Linked DNA regions of Homo sapiens. The protein of the gene in region 1 purifies or fractionates together with the protein of each later gene. This does not show direct contact. Each region holds a gene or a part of one and is shown in the gene's direction. Other genes may lie near its edges. The genes, in order: SUSD3, SERPINB4, CD207 and EVPL.

Evidence for each region.
Region 2: the proteins of SUSD3 (region 1) and SERPINB4 purify together in Homo sapiens (affinity purification with mass spectrometry; 3 studies listed by BioGRID and IntAct, with this or other methods). This does not show direct contact.
Region 3: the proteins of SUSD3 (region 1) and CD207 purify together in Homo sapiens (affinity purification with mass spectrometry; 3 studies listed by BioGRID and IntAct, with this or other methods). This does not show direct contact.
Region 4: the proteins of SUSD3 (region 1) and EVPL purify together in Homo sapiens (affinity purification with mass spectrometry; 3 studies listed by BioGRID and IntAct, with this or other methods). This does not show direct contact.

Annotation. Positions count from the first base shown.
Region 1 is NC_000009.12:93,082,348-93,085,984, forward strand, and holds the end of SUSD3 (sushi domain-containing protein 3), read left to right. Parts: intron 1-2,189; coding exon 2,190-2,400; 3' UTR 2,401-2,786; downstream 2,787-3,637. UniProt on the Homo sapiens protein: May play a role in breast tumorigenesis by promoting estrogen-dependent cell proliferation, cell-cell interactions and migration.
Region 2 is NC_000018.10:63,636,280-63,641,481, reverse strand, and holds the end of SERPINB4 (serpin B4), read left to right. Parts: intron 1-490; coding exon 491-608; intron 609-1,705; coding exon 1,706-1,848; intron 1,849-2,141; coding exon 2,142-2,297; intron 2,298-3,358; coding exon 3,359-3,763; 3' UTR 3,764-4,223; downstream 4,224-5,202. UniProt on the Homo sapiens protein: May act as a protease inhibitor to modulate the host immune response against tumor cells.
Region 3 is NC_000002.12:70,829,711-70,833,520, reverse strand, and holds the end of CD207 (C-type lectin domain family 4 member K), read left to right. Parts: intron 1-469; coding exon 470-621; intron 622-1,701; coding exon 1,702-1,820; intron 1,821-2,320; coding exon 2,321-2,471; 3' UTR 2,472-2,599; coding exon of another isoform or gene 2,600-2,712; 3' UTR 2,713-3,310; downstream 3,311-3,810. UniProt on the Homo sapiens protein: Calcium-dependent lectin displaying mannose-binding specificity. Induces the formation of Birbeck granules (BGs); is a potent regulator of membrane superimposition and zippering.
Region 4 is NC_000017.11:76,005,865-76,010,530, reverse strand, and holds the end of EVPL (envoplakin), read left to right. Parts: coding exon 1-3,428; 3' UTR 3,429-3,686; downstream 3,687-4,666. UniProt on the Homo sapiens protein: Component of the cornified envelope of keratinocytes. May link the cornified envelope to desmosomes and intermediate filaments.

The DNA of each region.
Region 1 (3,637 bases):
TGCTCTGTCGTCCAGGCTGGAGTTCAGTGGCGCGATCTCGGCTCACTGCAAGCTCCGCCTCCCGGGTTCACACCATTCTCCTGCCTCAGCCTCCCAAGTAGCTGGGACCACAGGTGTCCGCCACCATGCCCAGCTAATTTTTTGTATTTTTAGTAGAGACAGGGTTTCACTGTGTTAGCCAGGATGGTCTCGATCTCCTCACCTCGTGATCTGCCCACCTCGGCCTCCCAAAGTGCTGGGATTACAGGCGTGAGCCACCGTGCCTGACCCCCTTTCCTTTTTATTTTAGTTTTGTTGGGGCCATGGTGGCTAATGCCTTTCCTTTTGGGTAGTGAGATATCCAAAGCCACTTTCAGAGCTCCTCCATTGCCCCACCTGTGATCCCCACTCCCCATTACAGCACTGGGACCAGATCATCCTGTGTCATAACTGGGAAAGTGCCCATGGAATGGGGGAAGGAACAATTGCCTCTCAAGGCAACATGGTGTCCAGGATGATGGCAGCCACAGCTGCTGCCGCTGCCGCAGGGGCTTTGCTGGCCAGAGCATGATGCCGAGGGGCTCCCAGGGGTGCTGTTTGGGGCCACACTTCTGCCTGGTCCCAGCGCCACAGACCCTGCCTCTTACACTGCGGGAACTTGTGCAGTGTGTGGTCGGACGTGTGCGTCCCGTCCAAGAGTGGCCACAGATCTGTGTACAGGGCTGTGTTCACCCCCTCTGGGGAGTGAGAGAGCCAGGGCGGGAGGGAGGCACCCTGACAGGGCCGTGAGAGGCTGGAGGAGGCCGGCTTAGGGGCCACTCTGACAGTCAGCTCAAGAGGCAGGAAGTGGTGGTGAGGCTGAGGGGGATTGGGAGGGGGACCCTTAGGGCAGAGCCCCTTCCCGGAGCTCTCTCACACATGGAGACCTCGAGCACTCAGCCCAGCTTCATGGGGACTCAGAGAAGGCGGGTCCTGCCCAGGGCTACAAAGCCGATGGAGGCAGAGTTCCCTGAGTCCCCAGCCCTGGGCCCCGGGCTCCCAGGCAGGATCCTCGGGATATGCCTGTGCTGGGGCTGCCCACCCCTCAGGCAGGGCCCAGGCTGCCTCCATAGGTGGTAAATTGCCTTTAGCAAGGTGAGGTTTGCCTCTTGACCTTGTTTTTATTTCATAAGTACTTCTCAGCACTTGCAATGTGCCAGGCACTGTTCTGAACTCTTCCAAATATTAACTCTTTTCACCTAGGGGTGGGTACTACTTTTATCCCGTTTTCCAGGTGAAGAACTAGGCAGGTTAAGAAACTTGTGTAGACTCCCACACAACCAGTAAGTGAGGCTGGGTGGAGTCAGTCTGGCTCCTGCCTCCCCGAAGCTGCCTTTCGTCTCCACCAGTTATTGATGCTTTCACTTACTCATTGCATAAGCAGATCATTTCTTAATTCCTACTACTTACTAGAGTTTTTCTGAGAATTAGTTGTGGGTGGGAGCCGTGATCCAGGAAGGCTTCCTGGAAGAGGTGATGCCGGAAGTGAAAGGACTAAGAGAGCCTGCTTTGGGAGGGGAGAGAGACAGCCTCTGAGGGGAGGAGAGGACATGCAAAGGGCTGGAGGTGGGAGCCGCCAGGCAGCCCACATGGAGCAGAGGCCAGTGTGTGTGTGGAGGCTGGAGATGGGACAGGGCCAGGGTCTGGTCAGCCTGGGGAATGGCTTGGTTTGTATCTGGGGGAGTAGAGAGCCACAAGAGTACTGAGGGTGGAGCAGGTGGGTGATCCAGCTCCTGGCTACCAAAGAGGCAGGCCTGGCAGGAGGGAAGATGTCCTCCCCTTGACCTCCTGCTCCCCAGCATCCCTTCTCTGCCTGGGACATCCCAGGCCCTGGCCAGACAGCTGGGTTCCTGGTGGTTTCTGCACACTCTGAATGAGCCCCAGGAAGTCCCTTCCCACACCTTAGGGGGGCAAGTGTCTGACTCCTGGGCCACGCCCTGGTTGTGTAGATGAAGGACCCACTTGCCAACAGGGCCCGGCAGGGAGATGGAGTGACCTCTGTGCACCTTAGGGTGCAGGGCAGCTCCCAGCAGGAGGAAACGGGCTCCCCAGTGCTCAGGGCAGCAGTTGCCCCAGGCCCACTGGAGGGCCTGGGTACCTGGGAAGGTATGGAGTTGGGGATTAAACCCTATCCACACTCTTTTGCCAACTCATGCCTCCTCTCTCCACAGAGACCATGGTGAGAGCACCAGCAAGCTGGCCAGTGTGACCCGCAGCGTGGACAAGGACCCTGGGATCCCCAGAGCTCTAAGCCTCAGTGGCTCCTCCAGCTCACCCCAAGCCCAGGTGATGGTGCACATGGCAAACCCCAGACAGCCCCTGCCTGCCTCTGGGCTGGCCACAGGAATGCCACAACAGCCCGCAGCATATGCCCTAGGGTGACCACGCAGTGAGGCTGGTGCCCATGCTCCACACTGGGAGGCCAGGCTGACCCCACCAGCCAGTCAGCTACAACTCCACATCAACTCCACATGCGCCCAGCTCGAGACTGATGAGTGGAATCAGCTTCCAGGTGTAGGGACCCCTTGAGGGGCCGAGCTGACATCCAAGGCTGAGGACCCCAGTGGGGAGTGTTCTGTTCCGGCATATCCTGGCCGTAACGATTTTTATAGTTATGGACTACTTGAAACCACTACTGAGGGTAATTTACTAGCTGTGGCCTCCCACTAACTAGCATTCCTTTAAAGAGACTGGGAAATGTTTTAAGCAAATCTAGTTTTGTATAATAAAATAAGAAAATAGCAATAAACTTCTTTTCAGCAACTACAGAAAACTACCTCAGCATCTTCCTCCACAGGATGTACTGCTTCCAAGCAAGGACCCATGGAGGGTTCTGCATCTGTTGTCTGTAAAAGTGCAGTTGAGGGGTATGAAGTAAAACTAAATAATTATTTCTTTTTTTTTTGAGACAGAGTCTCACTCTGTCGCCCAGGTTGGAGTGCAGTGGTGCAATCTCTGCTCACTGCAAGCTCCGCTTCCAGGTTCAAGCGATTCTCCTGCCTCAGCCTCCTGAGTAGCTGGGACTACAGGTGCCCACCACCACGCCCACCTAATTTTTTGTATTTTTAGTAGAGATGGGGTTTCACCGTGTTAGCCAGGATGTCTCGATCTCCTGACCTTGTGATCCACCTGCTTCGGCCTCCCAAAGTGCAGGGATTACAGGCGTGAGCCACCGTGCCCAGCTAAATAATTATTTCTAATACTGAAAAATACAAAGGTAACAGTGGTTGGTTGATGTTAGAGTCAGCAGAGGAGACTTCCCTTTTTTTGTTTGTTTGTTTGTTTGTTTTCAGAGCTAGTTTCTGTTTAACTCTGAAGAAAAAAATCTGGTATTGGTTAGCAAGGAAGGAGTGTACTGAGGCATGACTGACCTGTCTTAGTCATGGGCAGTTCTCCTTGGCCAAGACAGGTCCATTCAGTCAGTCAGTGGGGCTTAAGATTTTATTTCACAGCCATAGCACCCCCACATGGCAGCCTCATGTGGCCTGGGCTTCCTCACAACATGGCAGCCGGCGTTCAAGGTGGAGTTGCAATGTGAGCACCAGGTGGAGGCCATTTTGCCTTTCAGATCCCAGCCTCGGAAGTCATGCTGTGTCTGTTCACTGGGAGTCAAGGCTGC
Region 2 (5,202 bases), on another chromosome or scaffold:
AACTGGCACTGACTCAGTCACATACGATACATCTTGGTGGGAAATGTATGACTAATGGGATATTATTGGAATGGGCAGGCTTGGGTGAGTTCCTGAGAATAGTTGAGGAAGTACCAGGAAATATTGAATGCACAGGATGAAAGACAAAAACAAAGATCAGAAACATCATGGTTAAAATTACTGGAGAGAAGTCTGAGAAGCAATGAATCTCCTTCAGGGAAGCCTGCTCTGCAGTTTGCAAACCACAGCCTCTTCTGCTTCTGCCTTTTGCCAAGATGATATTGACCTTCAGTGACCTCTTTCTTGTGCCAGCCCACATTCCCCTTTTGCATTGCCTACATGACACCTGTATAAAAATATCCATGGACAGGAGATACTGCATCTATTCAGGGTCTGGATTCAGCTTACTGTTGTTACAAATAAGTAAGTTTGGTAATATATAGTTACATAAATTACTCCTAATTCCTACTTCTTCCTTCATATCTCAAAGGAATATTTAGATGCCATCAAGAAATTTTACCAGACCAGTGTGGAATCTACTGATTTTGCAAATGCTCCAGAAGAAAGTCGAAAGAAGATTAACTCCTGGGTGGAAAGTCAAACGAATGGTAGGAGAGCCACCCATTATAGAAACACCTTTGAGAAACCTATGCCAGTGAGCCTTGTGCTTGACACTGCATGGGGGAACAGGTGTGGGGATTGAGATGGGTTTGCAGGGAGGGCTGAAGAGGGCACTCCAGATGAAGGATTTGTCCAAATGAATATGAAGAGAGCCTAGGGGAGCCAAGGAGGAAATCACAGGAAGCCAATTAGATGGAAACACATCTGGAGAATTATTTGCTTATGGCCCTGCATGACAATAGCTTTGTGGATCCCCTGTCTCCGCTCAGGCCTATTTTGAGATCATATCCTTTACTTTAAATCAGACTCAAATTTTTATGATGAATATTTAATAGAAAACATTAGAAAGCGTCTCTCGTCTCCTTTACTAATTGGGAAACAAGCAGCTCTCTGGTAAATCACCCTTTTGTCTCTGAGCTGGAGCTGCCTGGATCACATCTGTAGCCAATGTGTTCTGCAGGGATTATCACAGCTCTCTTCCCCATCAAGGGCAAAGAGCTTGACAAAGTCTCCATTCTACAGACATCTTTCTTACCTCCCACCTCTCATTACAGGCCAAACTTACAGCAACTCAACATGAGAGTGAATAGGAAGATACCCCCGGAAGTAGTGTCTGACAGCACAGGACATGCGTTTCATATTACAGAGCTCAAGTCACTCATCCTAAAATGCAATCAGGGCCTCCTTCCTCTGAATGGGGACCCCGTAGTTAAAAAAAAATAAAAGTAGGAAGAGGAGGGAGGGAGAAAGGAAAGACACATGTTGGAAGAGTAGACAAAATCAGTTTATCAGTATTCCAAATCAGATGATTGGAGACATTCATACACAGAGAACGTGAACTCCTTCTCTATCACAAGAAGTGATGTCTCCATCAAGGGTAACTTTATACGACTGGAGCCTTGAAGAAAGCTGCATCTGGTGAACCACTGGTCAGTGAGTCTAACAATTCAAAGATCAAAGTCAGTGAGTCTCAAGCAGGGATTTGGGTCAATAATTAACGATCAGTCACGAACATTTGCAAAGCATCTTCCAGACAAGCCATTTGTAGCTTGTGTAAAAGACTCTTTTATTCTTTCCCTTGCAGAAAAAATTAAAAACCTATTTCCTGATGGGACTATTGGCAATGATACGACACTGGTTCTTGTGAACGCAATCTATTTCAAAGGGCAGTGGGAGAATAAATTTAAAAAAGAAAACACTAAAGAGGAAAAATTTTGGCCAAACAAGGTATTGTCTATATTTTATTTATATAGTGTAATATGTTAATACATGGAATGTTAAACATTTCTGATGGAATGTAACATGATAAGTAAAAAATAAAAATTGTTCATGTCTGTTATTTTGTTGTTTTACTCTTATAACTTTATTTAGTTAGGAATACCTGAAAAACTATTGTTTCTAACTCATGGAATTCCTGGGTTATTTCTTAGAAGAAGAAGGATGTGTTGCTATCTCAATAATATTATCTTTTTTGTCTTGTGTTTCACGTGTTATTTGTTGGACACATTGATTTATTGCAGAATACATACAAATCTGTACAGATGATGAGGCAATACAATTCCTTTAATTTTGCCTTGCTGGAGGATGTACAGGCCAAGGTCCTGGAAATACCATACAAAGGCAAAGATCTAAGCATGATTGTGCTGCTGCCAAATGAAATCGATGGTCTGCAGAAGGTAAGAACTTGCATCTACAACTCTTCCTTCTACTGCCGGACATTTTTCCAAAGATACCAAGTTTAAACAAGGTAAAAGCTTATGACCGAGTTGCCTCAAAATGATGAAAAATTCTAAATGAGGAATGATGACTCACCTTCATATTACAAATATTTGAGCATAGGGCCTGACACAAACTGAAAGCTTAGTTTTTGTTTGTTTGTTTGTTTTTATTATTATTATTATAATACTTTAAGCTTTAGGGTACATGTGCACAATGTGCAGGTTAGTTACATATGTATACATGTGCCATGCTGGTGTGCTGCACCCATTAACTCGTCATTTAGCGTTAGGTATATCTCCTAATGCTATCCCTCCCCCCTCCCCCCACCCCACAACAGTCCTCAGAGTGTGATGTTACCTTCCTGTGTCCAAGTGTTCTCATTGTTCAATTCCCATCTATGATTTAATTCCATCTATGGCTTAGTTAATGATTAATTTATTAGAGTTACATGCATTGGATATCAATTTGATGATATTATTATGCAGCAATTTAAACTTGACTGGGAGAAATATATACCAATGTGAGGAAAGTTTACAAATAGGCCGAGTAGAAAAGGGAATACAAATTTAGGAATTTAGGGAATTACAATTTAATAATTGCAATGTGTACTAAATAATGTATACAGAAAAATATGATGAGCCTATTAAAAATTGACACATGTAGTAGGCTGTTGGCACAAGAAATAGTGATACATACAGTTCATTGTGTACAAAATAATGTAATCATATTTTACATGTGTATCATACAGTTGTATACATACATATGTACACATATACATATACGTAAAAACATGATTCTGTTTTTACATACATGTATATACATATACACATATAACCCAATGTATTTATATATTCAGGACTCATATTTTACCTATTAGAATAATAATGTCTATTAAAGTGAACCTTCTGTATTTCACATTTATTGCCAAAATAACGAATCTCCACATAGTCAATTCATTGTTAAGGTGTATTAGAGATCGACAGTTAGTCATATCAGTTTCTTTTTTCCATTTGTATAGCTTGAAGAGAAACTCACTGCTGAGAAATTGATGGAATGGACAAGTTTGCAGAATATGAGAGAGACATGTGTCGATTTACACTTACCTCGGTTCAAAATGGAAGAGAGCTATGACCTCAAGGACACGTTGAGAACCATGGGAATGGTGAATATCTTCAATGGGGATGCAGACCTCTCAGGCATGACCTGGAGCCACGGTCTCTCAGTATCTAAAGTCCTACACAAGGCCTTTGTGGAGGTCACTGAGGAGGGAGTGGAAGCTGCAGCTGCCACCGCTGTAGTAGTAGTCGAATTATCATCTCCTTCAACTAATGAAGAGTTCTGTTGTAATCACCCTTTCCTATTCTTCATAAGGCAAAATAAGACCAACAGCATCCTCTTCTATGGCAGATTCTCATCCCCATAGATGCAATTAGTCTGTCACTCCATTTAGAAAATGTTCACCTAGAGGTGTTCTGGTAAACTGATTGCTGGCAACAACAGATTCTCTTGGCTCATATTTCTTTTCTATCTCATCTTGATGATGATAGTCATCATCAAGAATTTAATGATTAAAATAGCATGCCTTTCTCTCTTTCTCTTAATAAGCCCACATATAAATGTACTTTTCCTTCCAGAAAAATTTCCCTTGAGGAAAAATGTCCAAGATAAGATGAATCATTTAATACCGTGTCTTCTAAATTTGAAATATAATTCTGTTTCTGACCTGTTTTAAATGAACCAAACCAAATCATACTTTCTCTTCAAATTTAGCAACCTAGAAACACACATTTCTTTGAATTTAGGTGATACCTAAATCCTTCTTATGTTTCTAAATTTTGTGATTCTATAAAACACATCATCAATAAAATAATGACATAAAATCATTTTTGCTTTACCTGTTTTCTCTCTGGAAAGGGCAAGTGTCCAGTTACACATAGGAAAGATAATTTAGAGATATATTAATCATATATAAAGGAAAATTAAAAACAGAGTAGTTCATGATGAGCCTGGAGTAGAAGGCATATCCCAGAACAGGAGGAGCCTTGTAAACCACATAGGAACTTCCTATTTTATGCTAAAGGGATAAGAAACTCATTACAGGCTTTGATGGTTGTTTGTCAAAGAGGGGCATAAAATTATCATATCCACATCTAGAAAATACATCTCTGGCTACGCTGATATCAATGGATGCGAGGAAAGAACAGTGTGGTTACCATATATAAATTAGGAAATCATTAGAGTATTGGGAGTGGAAATGGAGAGAAAGAAAGAGCCTGGGGGAATTATTTAGGAAATAATAGTTACAGAAAGACATCTAAGTTGCTGACCTATCTGACTGGATGGATGGAAGAATATCTTGTTTCTGAGAGAAAAAAAGACTTTGGGTTTAAATTTGTACTTGATGAATTAAGGTACTTTTAATATTCAAATGGATTTGCCTGGCAGGCACTTGAAGATATTAGTCTAAATCTCAGAAACAGAATATGATCTGAAGCTCTAAATTTGTGATATTCAATATAAATACTTTAGAGTCATTGGGATAAATATGGTAGTTGTAGCTAAAAGCAAAAATAAGATACTAGGGAGAAAGGATAAAGTTAGAAGAAAGAAGAATCTAGAATTGACCTTGAAGTATATCAGCATGTGTAAAGATCAGGAATTGATCATTTTTATTTTCCAGAAAGTAGCTTTTCTTAGGGTTCCATATTTACTCCCATAGATTCTTCCCAGTCAGTACTGAATCCCACCTGGTTTCATAAAACATAAGTTTTAGAGAATTTGAACAAGGTTGAAGTTTTCTTCAGCAAGATTCAGCAGTCCAAGATGAAGGCAGAGGAAACAAATGTTTCACCACTTAACTAT
Region 3 (3,810 bases), on another chromosome or scaffold:
GGCTAGGAAGTTAAGGAGAGAGGGCTTGAGGTTGGGGAGGACTTAGGGGCTGTTAGGAGAAAAGAGACCAGGGTCCAGCTAGAGCTCCCACACAAAAGTGCAGAATGTAAAAGCATTAGGGGATGTCCACCCTGGCCCACACCTAGTCATTTCCCATCAAGTTCCTTTCTAGAGTCCAGGGGCTCAGCCACTTGTCATGGCCGATGGAGGGTTGCTTCCTCATCATGGGGAAGACACTCTTTGTCCAACCTCTTGCATTATAACCTCTCCAGTCCCAGAGACTCTATTAGTCTCTGTCTGACTTTCAGGATTTGAAAGAGTGTCCCTAATCTCCTATACAAGGACCCAAGGACACCAGCGCACAGCTCCATTTGCTGCTGTCTCTGAGACCTCATTCAAGTGCCCCCACCAAGCCAGCATCCCAAGAAATCAAGAATACCAGCGTTCACTTTTACCTCTTGTTCTCTAGATGATATTCTACAGGTGGTTTCTCAAGGCTGGAAGTACTTCAAGGGGAACTTCTATTACTTTTCTCTCATTCCAAAGACCTGGTATAGTGCCGAGCAGTTCTGTGTGTCCAGGAATTCACACCTGACCTCGGTGACCTCAGAGAGTGAGCAGGTGAGTGCTGTGCCTATGGGCTCTGTGAAGGGGGCGTATGAGCACTGGGCCAGGGAGGATGGGCAAGATTATACTGCGTGAACAAAAATCCCCAAATATTGATGACCTAATGAAGAAGGATTGGTTCTCAGTAGCATGTCGAATAAGGGCCGGCAAGGGGGCTGTGCTCACTGTGGCTACTCAAGGACCCAGGCCCAAGGAGTCTTCATCTTAATATGTCTCCACAATTGCTGGGGCAGGAAAGGGGAACTTGACATATTGTGCAAAGCTTCTGCCCAGATTTAACATACCTCATTTTTGCTTACATTTCACTAGCTTAAGTTATGTTAATTAAGTTAAGTAAGTTATGCAGTACTCCTGGATTGGGAGGATCCTGGATTCCAGTACTCCTGGAACAGGGCAGAGAGGATCTACTTTCCATGTGCCCAGAAAAAAAGAAATATTTGTGAACAGCCTTAATGATTCCACATGACTCAAGAAGTCTCCTGCCTGGTGAGGCAGAAATTGGGCAGGCCCTTTTCATCTGGGAGGTGGGATAGCAGAGCAGGTCAGAGCCTGGGCTCTGGCGTAGTTCTAGAGCCTGAACCTTGCCATCTAACTAGTCCTAGCAGCTTGGGTGGAATACCCAACTTCACTGGGCAAACTTCACTGGCCCTCACTTGATGAAACATGCATGGTGATGGCACCTGCCTCAGAGGAAAGGAGAGAATGCATATGGACGACTCAGCACAGTGCCGTATGTGGATTCAGGGCTCATTTAATTCAGGTATTATCATATGAACCATTCTCTTGCGGTCCGTGCTCTGGAGTTCAGCTGAGGCCTTCCTGTGCTTCAGCACCTGCTTCCTGAGTGGCAGAAAGGCTTGAGTCCTGAGCTTGTTAGCTGCAGAGCAGGGACACATCATAATCTGGAAGATGAAATCTGGGCTCTGGGCAAGGGCAGGAAGAAGCTTGAGAGGCCAGTTTGTGCAGCGCATCTGTGGGTCAGGGCTGTCACTGAGCGCAGGTGAAGAACACCCAGAGACAGATGATCAAGCTCCAAGTGTGGCCGCACCTCTGCTTATCCTGTCTTTCCTACAGGAGTTTCTGTATAAAACAGCGGGGGGACTCATCTACTGGATTGGCCTGACTAAAGCAGGGATGGAAGGGGACTGGTCCTGGGTGGATGACACGCCATTCAACAAGGTCCAAAGTGTGAGGTAAGCCCCTGGAGCCCTCCGTGCCAGCCTGACTTTCCCCGGCCATGGCCAGGGCATGAAGGGAGTGGGGGCGATGTTCCCCATGAGACAGGGTTTCTGATTCTTCCCTGTCTTAGAGTGACAGGAACATTGCAACCAAGATCGAGCACAACCCTGTCACCAACTGGCTGTGGACCTGAGCCCTCCACGCCCTCTGGGGTTTGGCAACAAGGCCTTCTACCTGGCCAGCTTCAGGGATCTTGTCATGAGTCTAGGTCTTCACAGTGTGGGTTTGTGTAGGGACTTGAAAGTGGTGGGTTGGTTTGGCCTGGACTTGGGGCATGTGAAAGCTTAGAGGTCGAAGTCTCACCAGTCCCCTTCCTCTGAGGCTTGGGTGCAGACATTTGCTATGCCATTCCCTAGGACAAAAGCTTGGGTTGAGTTAACTCATTTCTTCACTGGAAATAAGTTCTTTTTGATTTTCCACTTTGTAAATCCATCTTTTTCCCCGCTCTTGGTAGGTTCTGGATTCCAGGTGAGCCCAACAATGCTGGGAACAATGAACACTGTGGCAATATAAAGGCTCCCTCACTTCAGGCCTGGAATGATGCCCCATGTGACAAAACGTTTCTTTTCATTTGTAAGCGACCCTATGTCCCATCAGAACCGTGACAGGACAGGCTCCCAAGCTCACTCTTTGAGCTCCAACGCTTGTTAAACATGAGGAAATGCCTCTTTCTTCCCCAGACTCCAGGATGACTTTGCACGTTAATTTTTCTTGCTTCAAAATTGTCCCACAGTGGCATTCTGGAGTCCGTCTGTCTTGGCTGGAAATTCTCTGACGTCTTGGAGGCAGCTGGAATGGAAAGGAGAATTCAGGTTAAAGTGGGAGGGGTGGGTAGAGAGGATTTAGAAGTTCCAATTGCCCTGCTAAGGAGGATCAAGACCCGTAATCCGGCATAACACCCTGGGGTTTTCCACTCTTTCAGAGAAACCTCAGCTTCATCACATCAAAGTTACTCCAGAGCAACCAAGCAATTCTCCTGATATTGTCATCCAGGGCTTTTCTTGGCCAAACCCCCTAGAATTTCCATGTCTCTGCTTAGCTGTGCTGGCAGCTAGCAGCTGGCTGTGTTTGCAGTGCAAATAGCTCTGTTCTTGGAAATCCTGCTCATGGTATGTCCCCAGTGGTTTCTTCATCCACATCATCTAAAGCCTGAACCCGTTCTTCTCTGGTTCAAGTCAGTGGCTGACACGGACTTGTATCTCCTTCAGAGCTCGGCTGGCACCCAGCCTCCCTTCTCCTTCCACTCCCTTAGTACACTGGAGTGCCGAGCCCTGCCTTCCACCCAGCGTCCATCCAGCCCCTGTCCTCACCTCTCCGGCACCTCCTCCTCCTTCTGCATTTCCTATCTTCCTGTGTCTTGTGCATGGGAAGCAGCCTTCAGTGCCTTCATGAATTCACCTTCCAGCTTCCTCAGAATAAAATGCTGCCTGGGTCAAGGACTCACTCCAAGTGCACTTTTTCATTTCTGGTTGTCCAGGTGAATATGTGGGAAAGGCAGTCTCCTCTGGTGGACATGAAGTTCTAGGGTATCCTCAGGAAACATCTGGGGAGTCAAAAATAACAAGGACTGGGGAAGTTCCAGTCCTGGAAATGCCACAAAATGTGACCAGTACTTATCTCTAGTTTTTATTAAAGTAGAGCAAGGTCTCCAATGTCACGATCTTGGTGATCTTTCTTCTTGTTTACTGCACAATCTTCTAGTCTATAGCTCAATTCCCAAGAACAAGTCTCAGCAGGTTCCCCACTCTTCACAGAGACCCAGTTCCACAGGCATCAGTTCCAAATCCCAAGTCCAGTGGCTGAAGCTGGAATCCAGGCAGCAGCCACCACAGAGAGGAGAGGAGGGTGGAGTGAGCACAGGTCTTCATTAAGGTCCTCAGGAAAAGATGCTTCCTTAAATAACTGTAACCAGCAGTGTGTTGTTCTGGGTGCAAATGGGTCACA
Region 4 (4,666 bases), on another chromosome or scaffold:
AGGACATCCGAAGGACCCATGATGCAAAGCAGGGCTCCGAGAGCCCTGCCCAAGCAGGGAGAGAGTCAGAGGCCCTGAAGGCCCAGCTGGAAGAGGAGAGGAAGCGGGTGGCCCGGGTGCAGCATGAGCTGGAGGCGCAGAGGAGCCAACTGCTGCAGCTGAGGACCCAGCGGCCCTTGGAGAGGCTGGAGGAGAAGGAAGTGGTAGAGTTCTACCGGGACCCCCAGCTGGAGGGCAGCCTGTCCAGGGTGAAGGCCCAGGTGGAGGAGGAGGGCAAGCGGCGGGCTGGCCTGCAGGCAGACCTGGAAGTGGCAGCCCAGAAGGTCGTGCAGCTGGAAAGCAAGAGGAAGACCATGCAGCCTCATCTGCTGACCAAGGAGGTCACCCAGGTGGAGAGGGACCCCGGCCTGGACAGCCAGGCGGCCCAGCTCAGGATCCAGATCCAGCAGCTCCGCGGGGAGGATGCCGTCATCTCGGCCCGGCTGGAAGGGCTGAAGAAGGAGCTACTGGCCCTTGAGAAGAGGGAGGTGGACGTGAAGGAGAAGGTCGTGGTGAAAGAGGTAGTCAAGGTGGAGAAGAATCTGGAAATGGTCAAGGCAGCCCAGGCTCTGAGGCTGCAGATGGAGGAGGATGCTGCGCGGAGGAAGCAGGCGGAGGAGGCTGTGGCCAAGCTACAGGCTCGCATCGAAGACCTGGAGCGGGCTATCAGCTCGGTGGAGCCCAAGGTCATCGTGAAGGAGGTGAAGAAGGTGGAGCAGGACCCAGGGCTCCTCCAGGAGTCCTCCAGGCTGAGGAGCCTCCTCGAGGAGGAGAGGACCAAGAACGCGACGCTGGCCAGGGAGCTGAGCGACCTGCACAGCAAGTACAGCGTGGTGGAGAAGCAGAGGCCCAAAGTGCAGCTCCAGGAGCGCGTCCACGAGATCTTCCAGGTGGATCCGGAGACAGAGCAGGAGATCACTCGGCTCAAGGCCAAGCTGCAGGAGATGGCGGGCAAGAGGAGCGGTGTGGAGAAGGAGGTGGAGAAGCTGCTGCCCGACCTGGAGGTCCTGCGGGCCCAGAAGCCCACGGTGGAGTACAAGGAGGTGACCCAGGAGGTGGTGAGGCATGAGAGGAGCCCCGAGGTGCTGCGTGAGATCGACCGCCTGAAGGCTCAGCTCAACGAGCTCGTCAACAGCCACGGGCGCTCCCAGGAGCAGCTCATCCGCCTGCAGGGTGAGCGCGACGAGTGGAGGCGCGAGCGGGCCAAGGTGGAGACCAAGACGGTGAGCAAGGAGGTGGTGCGCCACGAGAAGGACCCGGTGCTGGAGAAAGAAGCAGAGCGGCTCCGCCAGGAGGTGCGGGAGGCGGCCCAGAAGAGGCGGGCCGCGGAGGACGCGGTGTACGAGCTGCAGAGCAAGCGCCTGCTGCTGGAGAGGAGGAAGCCCGAGGAGAAGGTGGTGGTGCAGGAGGTGGTGGTCACCCAGAAGGACCCGAAGCTGCGCGAGGAGCACAGCCGGCTGAGCGGGAGCCTGGATGAGGAGGTGGGCCGGCGGCGCCAGCTAGAGCTTGAGGTGCAGCAGCTGCGGGCCGGCGTGGAGGAGCAGGAGGGCCTGCTCAGCTTCCAGGAGGACCGCAGCAAGAAGCTGGCCGTGGAGAGGGAGCTGCGGCAGCTGACCTTGAGGATCCAGGAGCTCGAGAAGCGGCCTCCCACGGTGCAGGAGAAGATCATCATGGAGGAAGTGGTCAAGCTGGAGAAGGACCCGGACCTGGAGAAGTCCACGGAAGCCCTGCGGTGGGACCTGGACCAGGAGAAGACCCAGGTAACCGAGCTGAATCGGGAGTGCAAGAACCTGCAGGTCCAGATTGACGTCCTCCAGAAAGCCAAATCGCAGGAGAAGACCATCTACAAGGAAGTGATCCGGGTGCAGAAGGACCGCGTCCTGGAAGATGAGCGGGCCCGCGTGTGGGAGATGCTCAACAGGGAGCGCACGGCCCGGCAGGCCCGGGAGGAGGAGGCACGGCGCCTGCGGGAGCGCATTGACCGGGCCGAGACGCTGGGGAGAACCTGGTCCCGGGAGGAGTCCGAGCTGCAGAGGGCCCGGGACCAGGCCGACCAGGAGTGTGGGCGGCTGCAGCAGGAGCTGCGGGCTCTGGAGAGGCAGAAGCAGCAGCAGACACTGCAGCTGCAGGAGGAGTCGAAGCTGCTCAGCCAGAAGACGGAGAGCGAGCGACAGAAGGCGGCCCAGCGGGGCCAGGAGCTCTCGCGGCTGGAGGCGGCCATCCTCCGCGAGAAGGACCAGATCTACGAGAAGGAGCGGACGCTCCGGGACCTCCACGCCAAGGTGAGCCGGGAGGAGCTCAGCCAGGAGACCCAGACGCGAGAGACCAACCTTTCCACCAAGATCTCCATCCTGGAACCCGAGACGGGGAAGGACATGTCCCCATACGAGGCCTACAAGAGGGGCATCATCGACAGGGGCCAGTACTTGCAGCTGCAGGAGCTCGAGTGTGACTGGGAGGAGGTCACCACCTCGGGGCCCTGTGGGGAGGAGTCTGTGCTCCTGGACCGCAAGAGCGGGAAGCAGTACTCCATCGAGGCCGCCCTCCGCTGCCGGCGCATCTCTAAGGAGGAGTACCATCTGTACAAGGACGGCCACCTGCCCATCTCCGAGTTTGCGCTGCTTGTAGCTGGGGAGACCAAGCCAAGCTCCTCACTCTCCATCGGCTCTATCATCTCCAAGTCCCCGCTCGCCTCCCCGGCCCCCCAGAGCACCAGTTTCTTCTCTCCCAGCTTCTCTCTCGGGCTCGGTGATGACAGCTTCCCTATCGCCGGGATCTATGACACAACCACAGACAACAAGTGCAGCATCAAGACGGCCGTGGCCAAGAACATGCTGGACCCCATCACTGGGCAGAAGCTACTGGAGGCCCAGGCGGCCACAGGGGGCATCGTGGACCTGCTCAGCCGTGAGCGCTACTCTGTGCACAAGGCGATGGAGAGGGGCCTGATCGAGAACACCTCCACACAGAGGCTGCTTAACGCCCAGAAGGCCTTCACCGGCATCGAGGACCCCGTCACCAAGAAGAGGCTCTCGGTGGGCGAGGCCGTCCAGAAGGGCTGGATGCCCCGGGAGAGCGTGCTCCCACACCTGCAGGTGCAGCACCTGACCGGGGGGCTCATCGACCCCAAGAGGACAGGCCGCATCCCCATCCAGCAGGCCCTCCTCTCCGGGATGATCAGTGAAGAGCTGGCCCAGCTCCTGCAGGACGAGTCCAGCTACGAGAAGGATTTGACAGACCCCATCTCCAAGGAACGGCTGAGCTACAAGGAGGCCATGGGCCGCTGCCGCAAAGACCCCCTGAGCGGCCTGCTGCTCCTGCCAGCGGCACTGGAGGGGTACCGCTGCTACCGCTCCGCCTCCCCCACCGTCCCGCGCTCCCTTCGCTGACACGGGCCAAGGAGCCAGTGGGGAAGTGCGTGTGTTGGGCCAGGTAGGATACGTACACCTCTTGCCTCAGAGCAGCCTCATCCCAGGCAGTGGGTCTTCCCTCTGTCCAACCACTGTTTTATTATTTTACTAACATGGTGATGGGCTCCCTCCCCTAACCTTGGTGCCTGATCCATCCCCAGACCAGGACAGCAGCCACTCAGTTCTTCCTCCACCTCCACCCAGTGATCCCAATAAACGAATTCTGTCTCCCCGTGCCATGTGGTGTCCCATTCATTCACATTTGAGAGTGCAGGACCCATGTGTCTGGGGGATGAGTGCAAGGACAGCGTTGCTCAAGTCCTTGCCTGGGCGGACGTGCTCAATTTGCCTGCCTGGGAAACAGGCATCCTCGGAGGGCTGTGCCTCCTTGAGTGCGGGGCAGGGATGCAGTGGCAGGTCATGGAAAGAGATTATGGTTTAAAATCACTAAAGGAGGCCGGGCACAGTGGCTCACACCTGTAATACCAGCATTTAGGGGGGCCAAGGCGGGTGGATCCGAGGTCAGGAGTTCGAGACCAGCCTGACGAACACGGTGAAACCCCGACTCTACTAAAAATACAAAAATTAGCTGGGTGTGGTGGTGCACACCTAAAATTCCCGCTACTCAGGAGGCTGAGGCAGGAGAATCACTTGAACCTGGGAGGCGGACGTTCCAGTGAGCAGAGATCATGCCACTGCACTCTACCCTGGGCAACAGGGTAGACCTGAGACAGCGAGACTCCATCTCAAAAAAAAAAAAAAAAATGGGGGCTTGGTGGCATATGCCTGTAATCCCAGCTACTCGGGAGACTGAGGCAGGAGAACTGCTTGAACCCATGAGGCAGAGGTTGCAGTGAGCTGAGATTATGTCACTGCACTCTAGCCTGGGTGACAGAGTGAGACTCTGTCTCAAAAAAAAAAAAAAAAAAAAAAAAAAATCATGGACTAGCCCCTGTCTCCCCACCTACTCCTTGCCCATTTCCCCACTGTCTCAGTTTGGGCCAGAGCTGTCTCCAGCCCTGTGTCAATGTTCCCCTTGTCAGGAAGCCCAGGTGTCCCCTGTGAGCAGAACAATCAGAAAACTCAGGAACATACCACGTTTATTTATTGTTGTCAAGCCAGAAATGAACCAAAAGAAGCACATCTCAGGTGAAGGAACAACTCCTTATTGCAGTCATAGCCCAGCTCTCCTGGGATCCGGGGAACGCCCTCTCTCC